2 linked regions of the Homo sapiens genome follow. The protein of the gene in region 1 purifies or fractionates together with the protein of each later gene. This does not show direct contact. Each region holds a gene or a part of one and is shown in the gene's direction. Other genes may lie near its edges.

Evidence for each region.
Region 2: the proteins of IDH3A (region 1) and SUCLA2 fractionate together in Homo sapiens (co-fractionation; 2 studies listed by BioGRID). This does not show direct contact.

The regions. Positions count from the first base shown.
Region 1 is NC_000015.10:78,153,627-78,166,361, forward strand, and holds part of IDH3A (isocitrate dehydrogenase [NAD] subunit alpha, mitochondrial precursor), read left to right. Parts: intron 1-1,586; coding exon 1,587-1,649; intron 1,650-3,281; exon of another isoform or gene 3,282-3,536; intron 3,537-3,921; coding exon 3,922-4,005; intron 4,006-6,465; coding exon 6,466-6,580; intron 6,581-7,954; coding exon 7,955-8,142; intron 8,143-8,607; coding exon 8,608-8,741; intron 8,742-9,880; coding exon 9,881-9,983; intron 9,984-10,089; coding exon 10,090-10,154; intron 10,155-11,365; coding exon 11,366-11,450; intron 11,451-12,523; coding exon 12,524-12,676; intron 12,677-12,735. UniProt on the Homo sapiens protein: Catalytic subunit of the enzyme which catalyzes the decarboxylation of isocitrate (ICT) into alpha-ketoglutarate.
Region 2 is NC_000013.11:47,997,238-48,009,937, reverse strand, and holds the start of SUCLA2 (succinate--CoA ligase [ADP-forming] subunit beta, mitochondrial precursor), read left to right. Parts: upstream 1-8,664; 5' UTR 8,665-8,668; coding exon 8,669-8,758; intron 8,759-12,700. UniProt on the Homo sapiens protein: ATP-specific succinyl-CoA synthetase functions in the citric acid cycle (TCA), coupling the hydrolysis of succinyl-CoA to the synthesis of ATP and thus represents the only step of substrate-level phosphorylation in the TCA.

The DNA.
Region 1 (12,735 bases):
TTCAGCAAAGGTTCAGACCCCAGAAAAAAACATCAAGATAGGATATAACAAATGTGTCTTTGCTCATGTATCTAGCAGGAGAAAAAGTTACTTTTTAAAAAATTTAATGCAGCCGGGTGTGGTGGCTCATGCCTGTAATCCCAGCACTTTGGGTGTCCAAGGCAGGTGGATCACCTGAGGTCAGGAGTTTGAGACCAGCCGGGCCAACATGGAGAAACCCTGTCTCTACTAAAAATACAACAAGATTAGCCGGGCATGGTGGTGCATCCCTGTAATCCCAGCTACTTTCAGGAGGCTGAGGCAAACCCAGGAGGTGGTGGTTGCAGTGAGCCGAGATTGCACCATTGCACTCCAGCCTGGGCAACAAGAGTGAAACTCTGTCTCAAAAAAAAAAAAATTTAATGCATTTTAATACCTTTGGTCTATGTACCCAGTTTCTTTTTTTATATTGTTTATAATAATGTAGTATGACTTTGTACCAGTTCTCAAGGACTAAGTTATTAAAGTTTATAATAAACCTTTAAAATTTATATTTCTGGCATATGATGTTAATTGGAGAGAGAAAAAAAAAAAAAAACACGTACCAGTGGTAATATCTTGGTGTGGTGGGATTACTGGGTAACTTTTATTTTATATTTTGTATCTTTTCCTAGTCCCAGCAAACTGACAGTAATGACCACATTACCTATATTATCAGAAGAAGCAGTAATTTATTTAAAATCTTTATTCTGTATGGCATGGGCATCAGATGGTATTAAATAAACTTTCTTAGATTTTACTATAAAGTGTAATTTCTTAATATTCACAGAATAGATATAATGTATAATTGAAGGAGCACTGGACCAGGAGTCAGAAGACCTGTATGTGGGTTTCCATTTTGCCAATTATTCGCTGTGTGACCTTAGGCAAATGCTTTTCTTTGGGACCAGCATCTCCGCTTATGAAATAAGCAAGTTGCCAGGTGTCGTGGTGCACACCTGTAATCCCACCTACTCAGGAGGCTGAGGCAAGAGGGTCACTTGAGCCCAGGAGTTGGAGACTGCAGTGAGTTATGATTGTGCCTTTGAATAGTCACTGCACTCCATCCTGGGCAACCTAGGGAGACCCCATCTCAAAAAGCCTAAAACAACAACAAGAAATAAGTGAGTTGTGCTCTGGATTTCATGAGGAACATCCTGGCTCTAAAATTAATGGTAATTTTCTTAGAATATATGTTACCCCTAAATTGACCGAATGGTCAAGAATGTTGGCACAAAATGATCCACTCATCTGAGAAGAATCTGTATGTTGAGCTGAAAAAGTAGTTTTATTCTACCTTCAACATCTTTTATTTGACAACTTATATTCGTTAAATTGACTTTGAAAATATACAGTACTCAATCTAAAGTAAAAATCTGAGTATTTAGGCTTTCAAATCTGAGATAGCTTGCCACATTGAGCTAATACATGAGATTTGTATTCCTGGGAAGCTACTGAATATATCTGTGCCAAGTTGCAGCATTACCATCCATCAGGACTTCCTCGCTCTTGTTTACTGTATGTGGTTTAATTCTGTGTGTGATATTTCTCTGTTGATATTAATATAGGTCTCTCGGCTGCTGGGGGCATTCCACAACCCAAAACAGGTGACCAGAGGTTTTACTGGTGGTGTGAGTATAATTATGTCTTTTATTTTTTCCTTTTAGAAGTTTCTCAAGAAAGATGCTCTAACATATTTATTATATAGCATTTTATCTCCATTCATTTAGAATTTGGGAAAATTGGCCATATTTATAATGTATGTTGAAATTACTGGCTGACATGCACAAATCTGTTAGGTTACTTGCGCATTTGAAAGAATTATCTTACAGCTGGCTATGTAAGTTTGTCACATTAATATCTTGAGGGAGCCTTGTTAAAAATAGAAAGTACCCTTGAGCCTGTTATTTTATTTCACAATCTCATTTTGGTGAGACAGCTTTTTTCAAAACTAGTACAAGTTGAGAGAAAATTGTTGAGAAGCTTCAAAACCTGCTTTGCATTTTTATTTTATGGGCTTCCCTAAACCCAGTAGATTGAGTGCCAATTAGGAATGCCTCGAACATCTATAAGCCTTGTAGGCTTATACTTGCCTTATATAGGCTTTGTAGACTATCACAGTAGTAGATCATCTATTGTTCATTAAATCTGCTGCTTTTAGAATTCCCAGCATCAGAATTCTGTGCTTTAAAAGCTGATACCACATTTTTGGAACATTCTAAGACTGTGGGTCAGTGACTTCCTATTTGTTTTGATCCCCGCCCCGCCTTTTATGGAATCTGATTTGGATTTCATAATTCCTATACTCCCATATAACATCTATGCCGTGAAAGATTTATAAGACCATAGTACATTTTTTCCTCCATTTACTTTCTGTATTGTGGAAGAAAAGCAGATTTTCTGGTGACTGGATGACATTTATTATTACATGTTGGGAGAACAGGAAGAAGTAGCCAAAGCGTTCTTTTGGCTCTGCTTATGCCAAAAATGCAGGATGGGGCTTGCACTTCAAGCTCAAGGATAGCCATGCTAGCATTTCAAACGCATTCTGAAAGCTAATAAGATGATCATTGCTCTCTGCTATTATTTAATTTTCAGGCTATTTATTTGAAAAAAAAATTAGCTTGATGGAGGAGGTTATTTTTGAAGAAATAAGAGGATGTATTAATTTTTTTAAAGACTTCTTCAACCCGAGAAAACTGGTATGAGCCTTAGCCCTGGCTAAGACTGAGGTGGGAGATTTGCTTAAGGCCAGGAGTTCGAGGCTGCAGTGAGCTGTGATCACACCTGTGAGTAGCCACTGTGCTCCTGCCTGGCAATGTAGTGAGTCCTCATCTCTAAAAAATAAAAATTGAAAATTAGAAAAATGAAAAAAATAAAAATGTTTCTTCAGTTGTACAGAAACTAATCAGAAATAATTAGTCCACGTATCTGGGCAGACATCATTGGAAGGCAAAGGACCAAGGAAACTTGAATTAGTGACTTTTTAAAAATGCAGTTCAAGCAACTAGAACTGAAAAAAAGCCAAGCCCCTAGGTGGGGTAAAGTCCCAAGATAATAAAATATGTGGTTCCCAAATGGAAAAAGAGGTGCTGATCTTCTCCCTTACATATTTTTATTTCTGCATTTGAAATGCTGGCTTCGTTTTGCCTGAAGCCTTAGAATAAATCATTGCTGTTACATTATAAAAACAATAATTGTCATTCTAAGTGTGACTCAGGCTTTGCAGGTATGATGACATATACTATTCTTTTTGGTTGCAGATCAACTTTGCCAAGCTTATGTAGATTACTCTTAGATTTAAGCAGACAGTTTTATAGAGGAACTAAGAAAAAAATGGAAGCTCTCTTGATAAAAAGTCTGATTTTCCCTGAGTACCAAAACAGACCTCAGTAATATTTTGGAAATGTGTCTGAAAATGTTTTGCAAGACTGAAGAAGTTGCATGAGAAGCTTTCCAGGATCACAATGGAAAGGAAAGGAAAACACTTGCCTTCATGAGAAACCGTCTAAATTTTAGTGAGAGAACATTGTTAATTTTTTGTTGTTGTTGTCTTTGGTTTAAAAGATTTGAATTAATTGGTCTCTTTGCAGCTTGTCTGAAAAGAAATATCAATTAGGAAATCTACTTGGTAGTTTAATTTATTTTCGTTTTATGTAAAGAGTATCATTTGGTTCTTTTTAAAACCTCTGAACTCAGGTAAAGAGTAGGATTGCAGAGTCTCTCCTCTGTTGATTCCTGCCTCCCCTTTGATGACCCCCGGGGAGGTATGTTTGTTTTCTTAACAGCATTTGAATCTTCCTGAGACATCTCATAAAGTGGATTTCTCTGTCAAAATATTCTTTTTTAAGCCTTCAAAAACAAAAATTCTTACTGTCTTCTTTGATGATTTCTTATGTTCAGGTTCAGACAGTAACTTTAATTCCAGGAGATGGTATTGGCCCAGAAATTTCAGCTGCAGTTATGAAGATTTTTGATGCTGCCAAAGTAAGTGGGCTTAAAAAATACATTTAATGATGACTCACTGAAAAGTTTTCTTAGCCAGTTGGATTCTGTGAACTTTTAGGATGCATTGTACCCATTTCTATGAAATTTAGTCAGGTCTGTTGTTAATCTCCACCGATTGTCACTTTAACAGTGTGTGTCTCAGTGTTTGCTACTGCCATTATTTCTTTCTTTCTTTTTTTTTTTTTTTTAAATTTAGAGATGAGGTCTCGCTCTATTCCCAGGCTGGTCTTGAACTCTGGGGCTCAAGCGATCCTCCCACCTTCACCTCCCAAAGTGCTTGGATTATAGGCGTGAGCCACCGCACCTGGCTGGCTGCTCCTGTTGTTGATAGTTTAAACTCCTGCATTGGCATCAGTTATATGTAAAGTAATCAAAGTAGTACTGCAGTATTTGTGGATCTTTAAGTCCTGCTTGGGTTTAAGATCTTTTAAGCCCTGCCAAATCACCCACCTTTTTGCAAAAAATAAAATAAAATAAGACTAGAATTGCTGTTTCCAAAATCTATACAGGCGCTTTTGAAATAATCTCTTTAAAATAAAATTTCTGATGTGTTATCAAGAATGGAATGTTATTACTTCTAACAGCTGAGCCTTTGATACAGGTAGATAATTTAAAAATTCTGTAAGTGGATTCAGCTGTAAGCTGCTTGTGAACAGCACCGTGTCTGTCTGAGCTCGTGTCCTAGGACATGTTCAGTGTGCTAGCTGTATACACATGAAGGATGTAGGTAGAGAGAAAGGGATGCTTGTTTATACCTCCAACTGGTACATTCATAGGTTATGCAATACATACATACATATATATATATATATTTTTTTTTTTTTTTTTTTTTTTTTTTTTTGAGACAGAGTTTTGCTCTTGTTGCCCAGGCTGAAGTGCGATGGAGCAATCTCGGCTCACTGCAACCTCTGCCTCCCGGGTTCAAGCGATTCTCCTGTCTCAGCCTCCCAAGTAGCTGGGATTACAGGCACATGCCACCACGCCTGGCTAATTTTTTTATTTTTAGTAGAGACAGGGTTTCATCATATTGGTCAGGCTGGTCTCGAACTCCTGACCTCAGGTGATCTGCCCACCTTGGCCTCTGCACCGGGCCTGGCCTATATATATATTTTAAACAATGTAATATTGTTTTTTAAAAACAGCTTTATGGAGATATCATTCATCCTTTATTTTTTATTTTTATGTTTCATTTGTTTTGAGACATTGTTTCGCTCTTGTTGCACAGGCTGGAGTGCAATGGCATGATCTTGGCTCACTGCAACCTCCGTCTCCCAGGTTCAAGCTATTCTTCTGCCTCAGCTTCCCGAGCAGCTGGGATTACAGGTGCCTGCCACCACGCCCAGCTGATTTTTGTATTTTTAGTAGAGGCGGGGTTTCACCATGTTGGCTAGGCTGGGCTGGAACTCCTGACCTCAGGTGATCCACCCACCTTGGCTTCCCAAAGTGCAGGGATTACAGGCGTGAGCCACCACACTGGGCCTAATTCATCCTTTTAAAATGTACCTTTCAATCCAGTGGTTTTTAGTACATTCACAGAGTTATGCAACCATCACCACAATCTAATTTTGGACCATTTTCCTCACCGAAAAAGAAACCCCATACCCTATGCAGTCGCTCCCCATTTCGTCTCTCTCCCTCCCTACCCCCTCCTCCTTTTTCTTCCCCCACCCTAGGCAGCCAACCACTCATCTACTTTCTGTATCTGTAGATTTGCCTATTTGGGACATTTCATATAAATAGAATCTTATAATATATGGTCTTTTATGATTGGCTTCTTTCACTTAGCATGATGTTTTTAAGTTTCATCCATGTATCAGTACTATATGATGTTTCTGTGAACCATATTCCTCTGCTACTTATGATATTCTAACTATAGCCACTGTTAAGAGCCCTTGTGAAAAGAAATAAGTGGGCAGGTGGTAGCTGGGAGTGATGACTGGGCACAGATAATGTAGAGAATCCCTCTGGGCCTGCTAGAGAATGACATCTCTTCTTGCATGCCAGGAACCTTCTGGACCTTTACTGTTTTTAGCAGTCACATCCAAAGTTGAAAAAGGGCTGGGCCCGGTAGCTCACGTCTGTAATCCCAGCACTTTGGGAGGCCGAAGTGGGCAGATCACCTGAGGTCAGTAGTTTGAGACCAGCCTGGCCAATATGGTGAGACCCTGTCTCTACAAAAAAAATACAAAAAAATTAGCTGGGTGTGGTGGTGGGCGCCTGTAATCCCAGCTACTCAGGAGGCTGAGGCATGAGAATCGCTGGAACCTGGGAGGCGGAGGTTATAGTGAGCCAAGATTGTGCCGCTGCACTCTAGCCTAGGCGACAGAGCGGGACTCTATCTCAAAAACGAAGTTGAAAAAGTTTGTTCATCATTGCAGTATGAATGCCAGTTTCCTTTAAGTCTCTCCAGCTCACTGTGCTCTGTGATGTGGCATCTAGGCACCTATTCAGTGGGAGGAGCGGAACGTCACTGCCATTCAAGGACCTGGAGGAAAGTGGATGATCCCTTCAGAGGCTAAAGAGTCCATGGATAAGAACAAGATGGGCTTGAAAGGTAGCACTGAAGTAGAGACGGGGGTTTTTACAGATTTCCGCTACAGGGGTTACTTAGTTTTGAAAATTTATGCATTTAAACTGAATAAGGCCTGGCCATCTGTGAAGGTAACGCCATTCTTTTATGAAGTAACTACTCATAGTAAGATGTTTTATTCATTTGGGACATTTTTTTCCCCCAGTAAAAAACATTAAAGTATTACTGGATGATGCCAAATAACAGTATCTCTATTTAATCTTCAACTATATATATCTTTTGCTTAATTTTTACATTTGTATATTTATTTATTTACTTAATTTTTTTGTGACAGAGTCTCGCTCTGTTGCCCAGGCTGGAGTGCAGTGGTGTGATCACAGCTCACTGCAGCCTTGACCTCCTGAGCTCAAGCAGTCCTCCCACCTCAGCCGCCCGAGTGGCTAGGACTACAGGTGTGCCACCATGCCCAACTAATTTTTTAAAAAGTTTTTTGTAGAGATGGGGTCTCACTATGTTTCCCAGGCTGATCTGGAATACCTAAGCTCAAGCAATCCTTCTGCCTCTGCCTCCCAAAGTGCTGGGATTACAGGCCTGACTTAGCCACTGTGCCTGGCCTACATTTTTATTATTATTTTAATTAATACATGTTTAAGGCCATAATTCAAAAATACTAGCATGTGGTAGATTTAAATTCAGCATAGGCTTTATTTTTATATTTTTTGAGAGTCTCGCTCTGTTGCCCAGGCTGGAGTGCAGTGCCGTGATCTCGGCTCACTACAACCTCCGCCTTCTGGATTCAAGCTATTCTCCTGCCTCAGCCTCCTAAGTAGCTGGGATTACAGGCACACACCACAACGCCCAGCTAATTTTTGTATTTTTAGTAGAGACAGGGTTTCCCCATGTTGGCCAGGCTGGTCTTGGACTCCTGACCTCAAGCGATCCGCCTGCCTTGGCCTCCCAAAGTGTTGGGATTACAGGCCTGAGACTGTAGGCCAGAGCAAGCATAGGCTTTAAAGCCACAGACAGAACCAACATTGAATCTCATCTCTGCTACTTACTGGCTAGAAGGCTTGGGCAAATTTTTTATTCTTATTTTTTCTTTTTTCGTCATTTTTAAATGACAGTAACAGAGTTGCTGTTGTACGGGGTGATGATAAGGATTATATCATGTCAAGCACATGATTACAATGCTTGATCCTCAGGAAGTTCTGAAGATAAGAAACGCAGTTAATGTTCCAGAAAGCTCCCGTGAGGAAGTGTTCCTCCTTCATTTGAATCTCAGGTAGAGAGTGAACTAGAGGCAGAACACATTTCACAAGGTAGCCGAGGTGGGTTAGTAGGTCACACGTGAGACCAGAATTCCTTCTAGTGTCATCTGGGTTTTCTTCTGTATAACAGGCCCTTTGAAGACCCCAATAGCAGCCGGTCACCCATCTATGAATTTACTGCTGCGCAAAACATTTGACCTTTACGCGAATGTCCGACCATGTGTCTCTATCGAAGGCTATAAAACCCCTTACACCGATGTAAATATTGTGACCATTCGAGAGAACACAGAAGGAGAATACAGTGGAATTGAGCATGTGGTATGTTCACTCCAGATTCTTTTTTATTCCTGCTTGGACTGCTTTCTGTGCATCTGGGACCCCAGAGACAGATCTGCTTTATCTCTGTGAGGAGTTGTGGGTGTTTGTCTTGGTGCTGGGTGTCTGGCTGACAGTACTCAAACAAATGTAAGGCATGGTGGTTCGCGTCACAAGCTTGGGAATATGCCCTCTGAATTTTGAATCCCCCACTTCACAGGTGCGCTCTTCCGCAGATGACTGTCTCTGCATCTCAGTTTTCTTCATCTGTGCAGTGGGGCTCATAATACTTACCTCTTAGGGCTGGAGTTAACATGAACCCCATTGTCGTAGCAGTGTGTGTGATTAGTCATGCTAGCTGGCACTGTGCAGGCCTGCCACAAATGTTACTGTCTACTCCCCACCCTCTGTCTCCCACTGCGTTGCTGTCACACTCTTTCCAGCAAGGTGGGACTTCCTGTCTTGCAGATTGTTGATGGAGTCGTGCAGAGTATCAAGCTCATCACCGAGGGGGCGAGCAAGCGCATTGCTGAGTTTGCCTTTGAGTATGCCCGGAACAACCACCGGAGCAACGTCACGGCGGTGCACAAAGCCAACATCATGTGAGCTCCTTGCGGGGGCCGGCACCCCATCTTGCTTTGTTGTGGGAGAGCAGTGACAGGGCTTCCCTTTCTCCTCTTCAGCTTGTTCCTTGATTCCTAATATCTTTGAAAAAGAACTTTGTAACAATCCAAAGATACGGCATCTCTCTTCTGTCGGAGTCTCCTCTTTTCTCCTCTGTTTTTTTTTTTTTTTTTTGAGACGGAGTCTCTTTCTGTTGCCCAGGCTGGAGTGCAGTGGCGCGATCTTGGCTCACTGCAACCTCCGCCTCCCGGGTTCCAGCAATTCTCTTGCCTCAGCTTCCCGAGTCACTGGGACTACAGGCACATGCCACCATGACCGGCTAATTTTTGTATTTTCAGTGGAGATGGGGTTTCACCATGTTGGCCAGGCTGGTCTCAAACTCCTGACCTTAAGTGATCCGCTCGCCTTGGGCTCCCAAAGTGCTAGGATTACAGGCATGAGCCTCTGCGCCCGGCCTGGAGTCTCCTGTTTACTGCGCCTCCCTGGGCGAATGACAGGAGCAAATGAGGAGGGGATGGTGATTCAGGTCCTGGAAGCTCAAGGAAGGACTGAGGGTTATCAGGAAAGGAAATTGGAGCCTCGGGGTCCCCAGATGCTGTGGCCATCAGCAGAGGCCACATAGCGTACGTTTTAGAAGTGGAATAGTGGGAGGCTTAAAGTAGTGCTAACAATACCTGATGTGTTACTCCAGCAACTTAAATTCTCATCCAGAGGCTGTTAAAGTCCTCTGAATATATTAACAGTTTTCCTAACCTAAGAAAAGCATTGAACATGCAAAATAGTAAAACTATTTAAATTACTATGTTAACCTTTTAAAGCAATTTTAATAATATTAGTGGGTATTTCTTCATTCTTGTTAGATAACACTATAAAAATATAGTCTTCTCTGTTATGATCAAACTATTTTACATTTTTACTCTTTTATACTTTCAGAAGGATCCTAAAACATTTTCAGCTTATATTTTATTAACTACCTAAGAAATAATTTTATTGTAATTGGGATCAGGTAGCTTGGCTTCTGGAACTTAAATGTCTTGAACTTACTTTACTTCTTTGATTTGATTCTTTTCTTTCTGTAAGACTTTTTTTTCAGCAGTTTTTATTTGATTAAATACAGGCGGATGTCAGATGGGCTTTTTCTACAAAAATGCAGGGAAGTTGCAGAAAGCTGTAAAGATATTAAATTTAATGAGATGTACCTTGATACAGTATGTTTGAATGTAAGTATATATTCACACTTACCTGCTACTTTTTATGGTGAATGGTGTCTGTGTGTTGTGGGGATGCAGATTTTGATTACTAAATGCACAAATGTATTCCTTGTAGATGGTACAAGATCCTTCCCAATTTGATGTTCTTGTTATGCCAAATTTGTATGGAGACATCCTTAGGTGAGTCTGGCTGCAACCTATTTATTTTAGCCTATGATTTACTTATAAACATCCTAAAATAATTATGGCTTAACATTTTCAATTGAGTATTGTGAAATAGAGTATTTGTTGTAACATATGAATTGAATTCTAACAGTTCAGGTTGTGATATGAATGATTACATGTTGGGTGGCTTGTTCCTTCATTGATTTGCCAAATCATTGCTGGGCTCTTTCTCCCTAATCATTATTAGGTCACTCTTCCCAGTTTTTAAATGTTTGATTGATTGATTGATTTTAAGGTTTTGTTATGTATAGCTAGGTAGGTGGGTGGTCATTGTTACTATTTTTTGGTAACTTTTGACATAATTTCAGACTTACAGAAAAGTTGTAAGAATAGTACAAAGAATTCCCTTGTACTCAGCACCCTGATTCCACATTCTCCAGATGTCAGCATTTTATCACATTTACTTTATTACTCCTTCCCACTTTCCCTCCCTTCCTCTTCCTCCTCTCCTTTGTCTGTGCTTCTCTCTCTCTCTCTCTCCCCCCCCGACACACACAGACATAAGATGTTGGCCAAATGGTGATTTTCATTTTTTTTTTTTTTTTGAGGCAGAGTCTTGCTCTGTCGCCTAGGCTGGAGTGCAGTGGCACAATCTCGGCTCACTGCAACCTCTACCTCCCAGGTTCGAGTGATTCTCCTGCCTCCCCTGAGTAGTTGGTATTATTACAGGTGCACACCACCACACCTGGCTAATTTTTGTATTTTTAGTAGGGACGGGGTTTCGCCATGTTGGCCAGGCTGGTCTGGAACTCCTGACCTCAAGTGATCTGCCCACCTTGGCCTCCCAAAGTGCTGGGATTACAGGCATGAGCCACTGAGCCCAGCTGTGGACATGGTTTTCTGTTTTATTCAGTGATATATCCATCATCATAATCATGAATATTGATGCATAGGTTGTCCTAACTTGGCTGATGGGGGTCCCTTCACCATGTCTTCTGTGTCCTTTAGACACGGCCCTTTGTTCTTTGAGCCTTGCCTTGCTTTCTGACACAGTAAGATGCTCGAGGCTCATCTGTATTTTCCTAACCTTTGCCCTGGAATCAGCCATTTATCCAAGGAATGCTACTTCCTTTTAGTGGAGAATGATAATTAAAAACTAAAATCTGGGTGCTAGGTGAGATGTTTTATTTTTAAAAACATTCTTTGAAATGCTTTTCTTCCGCTAGTGACTTGTGTGCAGGATTGATCGGAGGTCTCGGTGTGACACCAAGTGGCAACATTGGAGCCAATGGGGTTGCAATTTTTGAGTCGGTAAGGACCCTGACACCTGAAACAGAACTCAGGTCAGAACAGCGTGTGAACTCAGGAGGAGTTATCTGTATAAGTATGCTTTAACTCCAGTTTTTCAAATTGTCAAAACAAAATGATGCTTTTTTTTTTTCTCGAGACGGAGTCTCGCTCTGTCACCCACGCTGGAGTACAGTGGTGCGATCTTGGCTCACTGCAACCTCTGCCTCCCAGGTTCAAGTGATTCTCCTGCCTCAGCCTCTCAAGTAGCTGGGATTACAGGTGTGAGCCACCACACCTGGCTAATTTTTGTATTTTAGTAGAGATGGGGTTTCACCATGTTGGCCAGGCTGTTCTTGAACTCCTGATCTCAGATGATCCATCCGCCTTGGCCTCCCAAAGTTGCTGGGATTACAGGTGTGAGCCATTGCACCCAGCCTATGTTTGTTTTTATATACACCCATATATAAACATATATATATGTTTGGTTTATCTCTTCATTTCCCTCCAGGTATTTATTATGTATCCTTCCTTCCTTAAAATATTTTACCAAAAATTGACTGAAAAAGATTGTTGGTCCATATTTTTATACTTAAAAAAATTACTTTAGCTCTTTATTTCTCCAAGTCTTTATTTATTTATTTATTTATTTTTGAGCTAGGGCCTTGTTCTGTCACCCAGGCTGGAGTACACTGGTGTGATCATAGCTCACTGCAGGCTTGAACTGCTAGGCTTAAGCAATCCTCCTGCCTCAGCCTCCCAAGTAGCTGGCACTGTAGTCAGGCACCACCATGCCTGGCTAATTGCTAATTTTTTTGTAGAAATGGGGTCTCACTATGTTGCCCAGGCTGGTCTTGAACTCCTGGCCTCAAGTGATCTTCTTGCCTTGGCCTATCAACGTGTTGCGATTACAGGTGTGAGCTATCACGCCCAACCCAGACTTTATTTCTTCAGTCCATATCAGATGAATTGCACGCAGTAGCTTTCAGTGCATATTTTGTATTGCTGAGGAAAGATGGTTAAGACTCCAGCTTCCCCAGAAGAGGACTGTTAGTTTTTGTCTCTCCCTTGATGATGCTACTTTTCCCGATGTGTAGGTTCATGGGACGGCTCCAGACATTGCAGGCAAGGACATGGCGAATCCCACAGCCCTCCTGCTCAGTGCCGTGATGATGCTGCGCCACATGGGACTTTTTGACCATGCTGCAAGAATTGAGGCTGCGTGTTTTGCTACAATTAAGGACGGAAAGGTAACAGGAATCTTGATTTACTTGTGCTGGGTAAAATGCATTGCTTCCATGTGTTTTAT
Region 2 (12,700 bases), on another chromosome or scaffold:
GCTAAAAAGTCATCACCTTTTACTACTTGTCTTTGCATCTTGGCTCTCACTGCCTAGCTTTCATGCTGTATCCTCTAATACCTTTTCATCATAATTTTAATATCCTGAACATTGTTGAAGAAGTGCAATGTTTGGAGAACGTTCGGGGTAGCTCCACCACCCCACTTTCCACAAGCCATGCTTCTACTTTCCCTTCTAGCCTCATATTCAACCATTTTCGCTATTGTTGTTCTTTAATCTCCTTGGGTCCTCCAGTCCACTACTGCCCCCTCTCCTTTACTCCTTCCAGTCCATCAGGCTTCTCCTCTTGGATTCATGGTCTTTTATTTCAATAACATTCTCACCAAATACTCTAAATTGCCTTGACCCACTGCCACTTCCTCATTACAATTTGGCAAAACCACACCCTGAATGAACACAATGGTTTGCTTTCCCTGTGTTTGCCCCGGGCCTCCCAGGCTGCTGGAGAAAAATTACACAATAGGCACATTTTTGTAGGTATATAGTCACCATCACCAACCTCAGATGGTTCTTAACACACCCCAGCAATCCTGCTACTTTTTTCTGTTAACTTTCTTTCCTGCACTCTATAATGAAAACTTCAAACCCTCTTCACTCCCTTCAAATTTCTGACTCCCTCACCTTTCACCTAATTTCCAGTAGATCATTTTGACTCCTTTCACTCAGACAAAATCTAAGCTTTTGACAGGACCTCATTCAATTCACTTGTACAAAACCTACCCTCTACCTACCTCTGCATCTACTTCCTCAGTTTTCCCTCCTGTGGCTTCAGGAGAGGTGTTTCTTCTCTCATCCAGGCTAGTGTCTCGACAAGAGTTGTAGAATTCTTTCTATCCTCAAGAGGCCTACTGTGTTATTTAATCATTTTCTCTCCTTTTATTGTTTGCTATTATTTAACCTCTCACATGCACCTGAATTATTCCCATTAAGTCTTAATCATACTCAGATCTCTTCCATCTAAAATCCAAACAAATAAACAAATGAAAACAAAATGAAAGGAACAAAAATAGTCAAGGTCATGGTCCTTTTTAACTGCTCTTGTTGAGCCGTACTCTTCATCCTGCAAAGCACATATTTTAGTTTTAGTTATTTATTCATTAGTGTGGGTATTTAACTCGTGTCTGCACTCCAAGTAGAGTGTAAGTCACGTGAACAGTGATGCTGTGTGGATTTTTGCTTGCCATTGGACCTTCAGCTGCTTAGATCCACAGCTGGAACAGAGCTGGCATTCACTCAATAGTTATTTTTTGGTTAAATTTCTTCATTCATTCAGCACTTAACTTCTTGACACTGAATCAGCACCAAAGATCAAGCGCATAGACTTGCCTTCAAGGAGCTCAAGTCTGGAGAGGAAAAGAGGTCAAATACCCCAGTGATTTCAATATAATGTGATATGTGCTGTGAAAAGGCATACACAGCACAACAACTTCTGCCTCAGCCACGGTGAGAGTGGAGCATGAGAGGTAGGCAGAGGCAGTCAGGAAAGGGTTCCAAGATGAGTTGTCCCTTGCATTGAATCCTGATAGAGTTTGGCTCTGAGTCCCCACCCAAATCTTGTTTTGAATAGTGGCTCCCATAATTCCTCCCTGTTGTGGGAGGGACCCGGTAGACGGATCAAGAGATTACAGGCTACAGACATATTAAGGAGGAAGAAAAGAAGTAGATCTTTCTGTATTCCATTGGCAGGGCAGAGAGGAAATGTGGTATTGTGGGGAAAATTCTGCAGCTAGAGTCGCCAAGTCTGGTTTAGAAGGTCAGCTCCGTCACTTATCGGCTAAGACAATTCTCCTTCCTCAGCCTCCTGAGTAGCTGGGATTACAGGCACACGCCAACACGCCTAGCCAATATTTGTATTTTTAGTAGAGACGGGGTTTTACCATGTTGGTCAGGCTGGTCTTGAACTCCTGACCTTGTGATCCGCCCACCTCAGCCTCCCAAAGTGCTGGGATTACAGGCGTGAGCCACCATGCTCGGCCTTTCCCCCCATTTTAATTTAAGTTTTAAATTATGGGCCCATGAATTTTTATTTTATTAATGACTTGTAATATGATACATTCTTTTTTAATGTTTACATTCATTATAGGTAGATAATTATAGGTTGAGATAATTATAGGTTCACATGCAGTTGTAGGAAATAATACAGAGTGATCCCTTGGACCCTTTACTTAGTTTCCAACAATAGTAACATCATAACTAAGATATTGATACAGTCTAGATACAGAACATTTCCATCACTAATAAGGATCCCTCTTGTTGTCCTTTTATAGCCATACTTCTCTCCCATACCTCTCTCTCATTCTGGCACCTACTAATTTGTTCTCCATTTTGTCATTTTGAGAATGTTATTTAAATGAAATCATATAGGCCGGGCGCGGTGGCTCACGCCTGTAATCCCGGCACTTTGGGAGGCTGAGGCGGGTGGATCACGATGTCAGGAGTTCGAGACCAGTCTGACCAACATGGTAAAACCCAGTCTCTACTAAAAATACAAAAATTAGACGGGCGTAGTGGCATGCGCTTGTAATCTCAGCTACTCAGGAGGCTGAGGTAGGAGAATCGCTTGAACCCAGGAGGCAGAGGTTGCAGTGAGCCGAGATCACGCCATGGCATTCCAGCCTGGGCGACAGAGGGAGACTCCGTCTAAAGAAAAAAAAAAAAAAATGGAATCATATAATGTGTAACCTTTTGGGATTGGCCTTTTTTTTTTTTTTTCTGAGACAAAGTCTCACTGTTGCCCAGGCTGGAGTGCAGTGGCCGGATCTTGGTTCATTGCAACCCTTGTCTCCACAGTTCAAGCAATTCTCCTATCTCAGCCTCCCTAGTAGCTGGGACTACAGACATGTGCCACCATGCCTGGCTTATTTTTGTATTTTTGTGGAGACGTGGTTTTACCATGTTGGCCAGGCTGGTCTTGAACTCCTTCCTGACCTCAAATGATCTGCCCGACTTGGCCTCCCAAAGTGCTGGGATTACAGGCATAAGCCACCATGCCTGGCTGGGATTGGCTTTTTAAACTCAGTAGAATTCTGAATGTATTAATCGTTTATTCCTTTTTATTTCTTAGTATTCTGTGGTATGAATTTATCACAATTTGTTTAGCTATTCATTAATTAGAGGACATCAGAATTATTTCTAATTTTTGGCTACTATGAATAATGCTGCTATAAACATTAGTGTACAGGTTTTTGTGTGAACACAGGTCTTCCTTTCACTGGGATAAATGCCCAGGAGTGCATTTCCTGGGTTGTACCGTAGTTGCATGTTTAGTTTTTTGAAGAAACTGACAAACTGTTTCCCATTTTACATTCCCACCAGCAATGTGTGAATGATTCATGCCCATGTCAGCATTTTTATTGCACTACTTTTTATTTTAGCTAATCTGACAGGTGTGTAGTAATACCACATTGTTGTTTTAATTTTTATTTCCCCCAATGTCTAAAGATGTTGAACATCTTTTCATGTGCTTATTTGCTGTTTATATGTCCTCCTTGGGAAAATATATGTTCATGTTTTTTGCCTATTTTATAATTGGATTATTTGCTTTTATATGTTGTGTTTGAAAGTAATTCATATATTCTATGTATTAGCTTTGTTGGATGTGGTTTGCAAATATTTTTCCTCTGTGTGTAGCTTGACTTTTTATCCTTTTTTTTTTTTGAGATGGAGTCTCTCCCAGGCTGTAGTGCAGTGGCTCATTCTCGGCTCACTGCAACCTCTACCTCCCAGGTTCAAGCAGTTCTCCTCCCTCAGCCTCCCAAGTAGCTGGGACTACAGGTCTGCGCCAACACACCTGGCTAATTTTTATATTTTTTTATTAGAGATGAGGTTTTGCCACATTGGCCAGGCTGGTCTTAAACTCCTGACCTCAGGTGATCCACCCCCCTCAGCCTCCCAAAATGCTGGGATTACAGGTGTGAGCCACCACACCTGGCTGAATTTTTACCTTAACATGGCCTTTTGCAAAGCCAAAGCTTTTATTTTGATGGGGCACAATTTATCAATTTTTTTTTTATGGATCATGCTTTTGGTGTTGTCTAAGAATTCTTTACCTAGTTTTAGATCTTGAAATTTTCTCCTATTTTTTTCTAAATGTTTTATGGTTTTGTGTTTTACAGTTAAGGTAATTTTGAGTTAAGTTTTGTATAATATGTGAGATTTTGGTCAGGGCTCTTTTTGATTGTTTGCTTGCTTATGGATGTCCAATTCCTCCAGCACCATTTGTTTAAAAGACCATATTTCCTCCGTTGAATTACTTTTGCACCTTTGTCAAAAATCAGTTGGGCATATTTGTGTGAGCCTATTTTTAGGTTTCTTATTAAGTTTCATCAATCTATGTGTCTCTCTCTCCAGCAATACCACACAGTCTTGATTATTGTAGCTATTATAGTAAATGTTGAACTCAGACTGTTTCTTCCCACTTTGTTCTTTTCAAAATTGTTTCAGCTATTCTAGTTTGTCTTTTCACATAAAGTTTATAATACTACGTCTGTATGTATAAAAAGTTTTGCTTGAATTTTAATAGAAATACATTAAATGTATATATCAATTTGGGGAAGAATTGACATCTTTACTGTGTTAGGTCTTCCAATCCATTAACATGGTAATATCTCTTCACTTATTTATCTTCTTTGATTTATGTCATCAGTATTGTGTAGTTTTCAGCAGGTAAGTCCTGTTCATGTTTTATTAGATTTACATGCATTTCATTTTTAAAAGGAATTTTAGGTGGTATTGTATTTTCGATTTGGGTCCATGTGTTCATTGCTTGTACCTAGAAATACAATTGATTTTTGTATATTTTTCTTGTTTCCTGAGATCTTGCAGGGCTCACTTATCAATTCAAAGAGTTTTTTTTTTTTTTTTTTGGTAAAATGTTTGGGATTTTATACACAGACAATCATCTTATTCTTGTCAGGCCTCTGAGCCCAAGTCTGCACGTATTCATCCAGATGGCCTGAAGTAACTGAAGATTCACAAAAGAAGTGAAAATGGCCTGTTCCTGCCTTAACTGATGACATTCCACCATTGTGATTTGTTCCTGCCCCACCTTAACTGAGCGATTAACCTTGTGAAATTCCTTCTCCTGGCTCAGAACCTCCCCCACTGAGCACCTTGTGACCCCCACCCCAGCCTGCCAGAGAACAACACCCTTTGACTGTAATTTTGCTTTACCTACCCAAATCCTATAAAACGGCCCCACCCCTATTTCCCTTTGCTGACTCTCTTTTCCGACTCAGCCCGCCTGCACCCAGGTGATTAAAAAGCTTTATTGCTCACACAAAGTGAGTTTGGTGGTCTCTTCACATGGACGCGTGTGAAAATTGTGTATAAATTACCTGAGGGTTGGTAATTCATAAAGAAAAAAGGTTTATTTGGCTCATGGTTCTGCAGGCTAAACAAAAAGCCTAGAGCCAGCATCTGCTTCTGGTGAGGGACTCAGGAAACTTCCCCAAATGGCAGAGGGTGAATGGGAGCTGGCATGTGCAGAGATCACACTGGAAGAGAGCAGAAGTGAGAGAGAGAAAGAGGGAAGGTGCTAGGCTGTTTTTAACAATGAGTTCTTGGGAGAACTCTCACAGGAGCCAATACAATGAGAACTTCTCATTACCCAGAGGACAGCACCAAGCCCTTCATGAGGGATCGGCCTCCGTGATCCAAACACCTTCCACCAGGCCCCACCTCTAACATTGGAGAATCAGATTTCACCATGAGGTTTGGATGGTCAGATATCCAAACTATAGCAACAATTATGTTATCTGTAAATAGTGAGAGTTTTCTTTCTTTCTTTTCACTCCATATGTTTGTAATTGCTTTTCTTGTCTATTGCACTGACAAGAACTCCCAGCACTATATTGAATAAAAGTGGTGAGAGCGAACACCCTTGCCTTGCTCCCAGTCTTATGAGAAGAGCATTCAGTCTTCTCTCACCATTAAGTATATTAGCCGTAAGTTTTTTGTAATCCGGTTTATCAAGATGAGGAAGTTCCCCTCTATTCCTGTTTATCTGAGTTTTTAATCATGAATGAATGTTGGAATTTGTAAGATGCTTTTTTTGTTTTTTTTTTTTTTGAGATGGAGTTTCACTCCTGTTGCCCAGGCTGGAGTGCAATGGCACGATCTCGGCTCACTGCAACCTCTGCCTCCCTGGTTCAAATGATTCTCCTGCCTCAGCCTCCTGAATAGCTGGAATTACAGGCACATGCCACCACACCCAGCTAATTGTGTATTTTTAGTAGAGACGGGGTTTCTCTGTGTTGGTCAGGCTAGTCTCAAACTTCTGACCTCAGATGATCTGTCTGCCTCGGCCTCGCAAAGTGCTGGGATTACAGGCGTGAGCTACCATGCCTGGCCTGTTTTTTTTTTTTTTTTGTAATGGGGGTCTCATTATGTCACTCAGGCTGGAGTGCAGGGGCACGATCACGGTTCACTGCAGCCTGGACCTCCTGGGCTCAAGTGATTTCCCCCCCATCTCAGTCTCTGGAGTAGCTGGGACCACAGGTGTACACCACCATGACTGGCTAATTTTAAAATTATTTATAGAAATGAAGTCTTGCTATGTGGCCCAACCAGTTTGGTCTCAAACTCCTGGGTTCAAGCAATCCTCCCACCTCGGCCTCCCAAAGTGTTTGGATTACAGGCATGAACCATTGTGCCCAGCTACTTTTTTTGTTTTGATCGAAATTATCATGTGATTTTTCTAACTTAATATAGTGCATTACACATATTTTCAAATATTAAAACAAACTTACATCTCTGGAATATATCCCACTTGGTCATATTGTACAATTCTTTTTATATATTTCTGAATTATATTTGCTAATATTTTGCTATGGATTTTTCCATCAATATTCATGAGAAGTGTTGGTATTTTTTTCTTTTTGTACGGTCTTTTGCTGGCTTTGGTAGTGGGGTGATTCTAACTTCATACAGTACATTGGCAACTGTTCCTTCCTCTTCTATCTTCTGGAAGAGGCTGTATGGAATTGGTGTTAATTCTTGTGTAAACATTTTATAGAATTCATCAGTGAAAGCTTTTGGGCCTGGAGATCTCAGGTTTTTTTTTTTTTTAGTTTAAAAATTACAATTACAATTTTCTCTAGTTAGAGGACTATTTAAATTACCTTTTCATATTAGGTTATTTGTAGTAATTTGTGCCTTCTGAAGAATTCGCTCATCTTGTCAAAGTTGTCAAATTTATGTTATGTGGTGTTATTTATGGCATTCCTTTTTGGTGTCTGAAGGTTCTGTAATTATATTCCCTGGTATGTTCCTCACATTGGTAATTTGTGTCTTCTCTTTTTCTTTTTTCTTTGCAGTCTTGCTGGAGGTTTGTTAAATTTATTTATCTTTTCAAAAACCAGATCCTTGGCTGGGTGTGGTTGCCCACACCTGTCATCCCAGCACTTTGGGAGACTGAGGCAGGAGGATCGCTTGAACCCACGAGTTGGAGACCAGCCTGGGCAACATAGAGAGATTCTGTCCCTAAAAAAATAAAATAAAAAAATCAACCAAGCCTGGTGACACACATCTGTGGTCCCAAACTACTCCAGAGGCTGAGGTGGGAGGATCCCTTGAGCATGGGAGGTTGAGGCTGCAGTGAGCTGTGATCGCGTCACTGCACTCCAGCCTGGGTGACAGACCAAGACCCTGTCAATCAGTCAATCAATCAATCAATAGCTTCCCTGGAGACTCCAGCCTGCCACCAGCTTTGGTAACTAGTGGCCGACTGTCAGGCCTCTGAGCCCAAGCCTGCACGTGTACATCCAGATGGCCTGAAGCAAGTGAAGAATCACAAAAGAAGGGAAATTGGCCGGTTCCTGCCTTAACTGATGACATTCCACCATTGTGATTTGTTCCTGCCCCACCTTAACTGAGTGATTAACCTTGTGAAATTCCTTCTCCTGGCTCAGAACCTCCCCCACTGAGCACCTTGTGACCCCCGCCCCTGCCCGTAAGAGAAAAACCCCCTTTGTAATTTTCCGCTACCCATCCAAATCCTATAAAACAGCCCCACCCCTATCTCCCTTTGCTGACTCTCTTTTCGGACTCAGCCCGCCTGCACCCAGTTAAAATAAACAGCCTTATTGCTCACACCCTGTTTGGCGGTGTCTTCACACGGATGCGCGTGACACCGATCTCTTTGAGCATCAGAAGCGCATGACACCGACCATCTTCTCTTTGAGCATCACAAGCGCGTTACACCGACCATCTTCTCTTTGAGCATCACAAATGGTTTTATTCATTGCTGTAGGCCAAGGGCTCAAGGCTGTTTAGCACGAAGTAGACACTGGGTAATCATTTCTTGAATGAAACACATTTTACAGATGAGGCAACTGAGGCTGAGAGAAGTTAAGATCACCCAAGTGGCGGCGCTGGTCACCTTTACATTGCAATTCACTAGGAAGTGTTCAGGTTGCTCTGACCGCAGGGCAGATATTGGGGCTGCGGTGCCCAGTTCCAAAGGTCAAAGCTTGCTCCGCGCCCGCCAGGGAGCTGGTCTAGCGGCTGCAGTGTTAACCCGAGGCCCCGCCCCCAACGGGTGGCGCGAGGCGGGGCGTAGGTGAGCGCTGCAGAGAGGCTGCGCCTTGGGCCGCCTGTCGCCTGTGCGCCTGCGCGCGGCGCCGAGGGGACGGGGTCCGACTCAGAAATGGCGGCCTCCATGTTCTACGGCAGGCTAGTGGCCGTGGCCACCCTTCGGAACCACCGGCCTCGGACGGCCCAGCGGGCTGCTGCTCAGGTAATGCCTTCCAGTCCGCTGTCGTCTCGAGGGTCGGCAGGAGAAAGGGTGAGGTGTGAGGGGTCCCGTGGCCCGGCTCGGGGTCACTTCGCCGGCAGTGACATTTTCTGGGTGCCCTGCAAGGCCCTCGGGCGACTTGCCTGGGAGTGCTGCTCGCCAGGACTACGAGCGAGCCCATGTTTGCGCGGCTCTGACCCAGCCCTTAGTCCGCGAGGATCCCCGGCGGCCCGGCCGTGGCTGCTCCTGCAGTTTCTAAGAGATGGGCGGGAGCAGGTGGGCTCTGAGTGGAGGTGAGGGGGTCAGGACATTTTCTGCTGCCATTCCGGCGTCTGGCACGGTGGGCTGAGACTTGCGCCGCCCCTTTTTGGGCAGGGGGGAATGCCCTTCAAAAGTACTTTTGTGTTTCTTGGGAGCTGTCATAGGTGGGAATGTCAGAGGACCAGCGGTGCTTACTGACTTGCCTTTTGTGGGGCAAGGTAGGGAAGTTTCCCCTCTCCTCCAAGTAGTTGTATACTGTTCTACTTGTTAATAGCAGTAATAAGATTATGTTTTCTACCTAACCAGTTGGAGAGGTAAGAAAATAATCTTTTGTATAGCCTTATTTCTGGATAGGCTATAGCATAATAGTTACTGGCCTTGTTTTGAATATTTGATGTGTGCCAGGTAATGTGCTAAGCGCTTTACGTGTAGTTTCTCAGGTTTTTCAGCAACTGTGAGGAAGTCATTCAACACCTGCATCATTGTTGAACATATTATGGTTAAGAGAACAAGTAATTTGGACTAGGTCATATAGGAGGTAAGATCAAAGCTGAGATTTAATCCCAGAGGTGTCTGGTTCTAAAGCCGTGTACTTGAGTTGGCTCCACAACTTCGAAAACAAACATCTTCCTTCCAACTTTGACAACAAAAAACTGTGGAAGGGCATTATTGGTGTCCTAAGTCAATTCCAGAGTTTTGGGTTTTTTTCTGAAGTAACTCTTCATACATGTCATAGTATGAATTGATTTAGGGCCCTCCCGCCCCTACCTTTTTTTTTTTTTTTCATTTTTATTGAAGTTGTTCATACTTTCAGCCTAGGGGTAGTGAGTTCTGTGAGTTTGCTTCCCGATAGAAGTGACTTTTTGACCTTGAACTTCCTTCTTATGAATCTTAGAAGAGTGCTATTTAGTTTTTAGAAAATGGGGAATTTAGTGACAAATACGTTTTCATTCTAGTCAAAATCTTTATCTTTTTGGAAGTTCATTTAAAAGCCTTCATTTCTCCTTATGGAAATTTCCAATATTATTTTCTTTATAACAGTTGCTGTCTTCTACCCTGGTATTAAGAAATGCAGCTCTAGAGTTTGGAAGGACCTTAGTCCAACCCTTTGCTTTTGTAGATGAGGACATAGAAGTACGGAGTCTTAAGAAACTCGTTCAAGGTCACACATTTAATTTAGCAATTTGTTTTCCACATTTTTTTTTTTTTTTCCTTGAGACGGAGTCTTGCTCTGTCGCCCAGGCTGGAGTGCAGTGGCGCGATCTTGGCTCACTGCAAGCTCCGCCTCCCGGGTTCATGCCATTCTCCTGCCTCAGCCTCCCTAGTAGCTGGGACTGCAGGCGCCTGCCACCACGTCCGGCTAATTTTTTGTATTTTTAGTAAAGACGGGGTTTCACCGTGTTAGCCAGGACGGTCTCGATCTCCTGACCTCGTGATCCTCCCGCCTCGGCCTCCTAAAGTGCTGGGATTACAAGCTTGAGCCACCGCACCCGGCCTGTTTTAAACATTTGTTTAAGTTCTCTGACCCTCCTCCAATTTCTTGGTATCTTTAGCCTAGTGTACCTTCGTTGAAAATAGATATTTCAGCATATGTCTTTAAGAATAAGGACATTCTTCCAAATAACCGCAGTGATCATACTTAGGAATTCAACATTGCTGTAACATGAATATATATAGTTTAGATTCAGATTTTTCTAGTTGTCCCCAAAGTGTTCTTTATAGACATTAGATTTTTTAAAAATTTAAACTGGGATGAGACCTTGTGACATTTTCTCTGACCAACTAACCAATTAGGTGCCACCTAGTGACTTATGTGCTAGTGACCTAGTGCTCTTATATGTGTTGCAGTTGTTTATTTACATGCCTGTGAACTCTGTGGCTGGGACCCAAGTGTCTTTATTTTTTTAGTGTCCCTAGCCCACTGTCTAGTTCATAGTCATCACAAAAAATATTTGAGTGTATGACTTTTTGCCAGGCTTATGCTAGTTACTCCCCTACCCACTAATTTTTATTATTATTTTGACGTATAATTTATGTACAGTAAGATGTACAGCTTAAGTGGATAGCTAGATTAATTTTTATGTATGTATTCACCTGTGTAACCATCGTCTGCATCAAGATATACAATGTTTCCAGCCCTCAGAAGGCTCTCATGTCCTCTCTCTTATCAATACTCCCTGACAGAAGGTAGCAACCAATTATGACTTCTGTCACCATAGGCTAATTTTGACTGGTTTTGAACGCTATAAAAATAAATCATGTAAGTATATATTCTTGTTTCTGGCTTCTTTCTCTCTACATTATGTTTGTGAGATTAATCCATCGATGTGTGAGCCATAGTACTTTTTTTCTTTTTATTTCTCTGTAGTATACTATTATATACATATACCACAGTTTATCCATTCTCCTGTTGATGGGCAATCAGCTAATTTCTGTTTTCTGTCTGTTATAAATAAGCCTGCTCTGGACACTCTAGACATTTTTATGTGTGCCTTTTGACAGATGTAAGGACTAATTTCTATTGATACATACCCAGGAATGGGATTTCTGAGTCAGAAGGTGGAGGTATACTAAACAGTAGTTTGAGAGGTTGCTGGGTTTTTTTTTCTTTTTTTTTTTTTTTTTAACTTATTTATTTGTTTTTTTAGACAGGGTCTTGCTCTGTTGACCAAGCTGGAGGACAGTGGTGAAATCACAGCTCACTGCAGTCTCAAACTCCTGAGCTGAAGGGATCCTCCTGCCTCAGTCTCAGGAGTAGCTGGGATTATAGGTGTAAGCCACTGTGCCCAGCTTGGTTGCTGGCTTTTAATATTGAAGTGACACTAAATCAAGGAATTGAGCTACCTAGGTCAAATGTTACCAAGGATTTTAGCTTGCTAAATGGATCAGAAATAAGTTGCTATTATATATGATTGATTTGTAAGACTAGTAGTTCTCATAACTGTAGGGTTCTTAAGAATCAACTGAGTGACTTGTTATGAATGCAGATTTCCTTGGGCCCAGTCCAGAGATTCTAATAGTGCAGTTGAGAATGGGTCTCAGGAATCTGCAGATTACAAGCACCCAGTTAATTTTGAGGCAAAAGCTTATGAACCTACTTTAAGAAACAGATTGTTTCTATGACCTCTTTAAATTTAATTCTTAGGACACTGTGTGTTTCATATGAACCATGTTTCAGTATACTGCATTCTGTATTGAGATTATGGAAATGCGTGGATAACATTTAAATGTGTGATTCCATTGACCAGTCATTGGGTGCAGGCTGACAGTGGGAAGGAGGTGTGACTTTGGGCAAGTAGGCTCCAGTAAGAGGACTTGGCTGAGAGCTGTCAGCAACCAGCACTCCCAGCAGCAGCAGTGGGGGCTATGAATGCCTTGGTCCTGAATGGGGAGTGCCAGGGAGATCTGGGCAGCATACTGCAACATCCACTACAGATGAAGCCATGGTTTTGAATATCGAGTGTATGAAAGAGTAATGGTATCAAATCATTTTATTATTACATATCTAGTGCCAGGTGACTTGTTAGGTGTGGAGGAATGGTAGAGAGAAGAAAATTGGGAAGGATTTTTGGTTTGGTGGAAAAGATGAGATTGGTTTTAGATCCGCTGAATTTGGCATTGAGGTAGAACTGCCCTGTAGATCATTGGAGATATGATAGTAAAGCTGAAATCTGAAATAAGGAA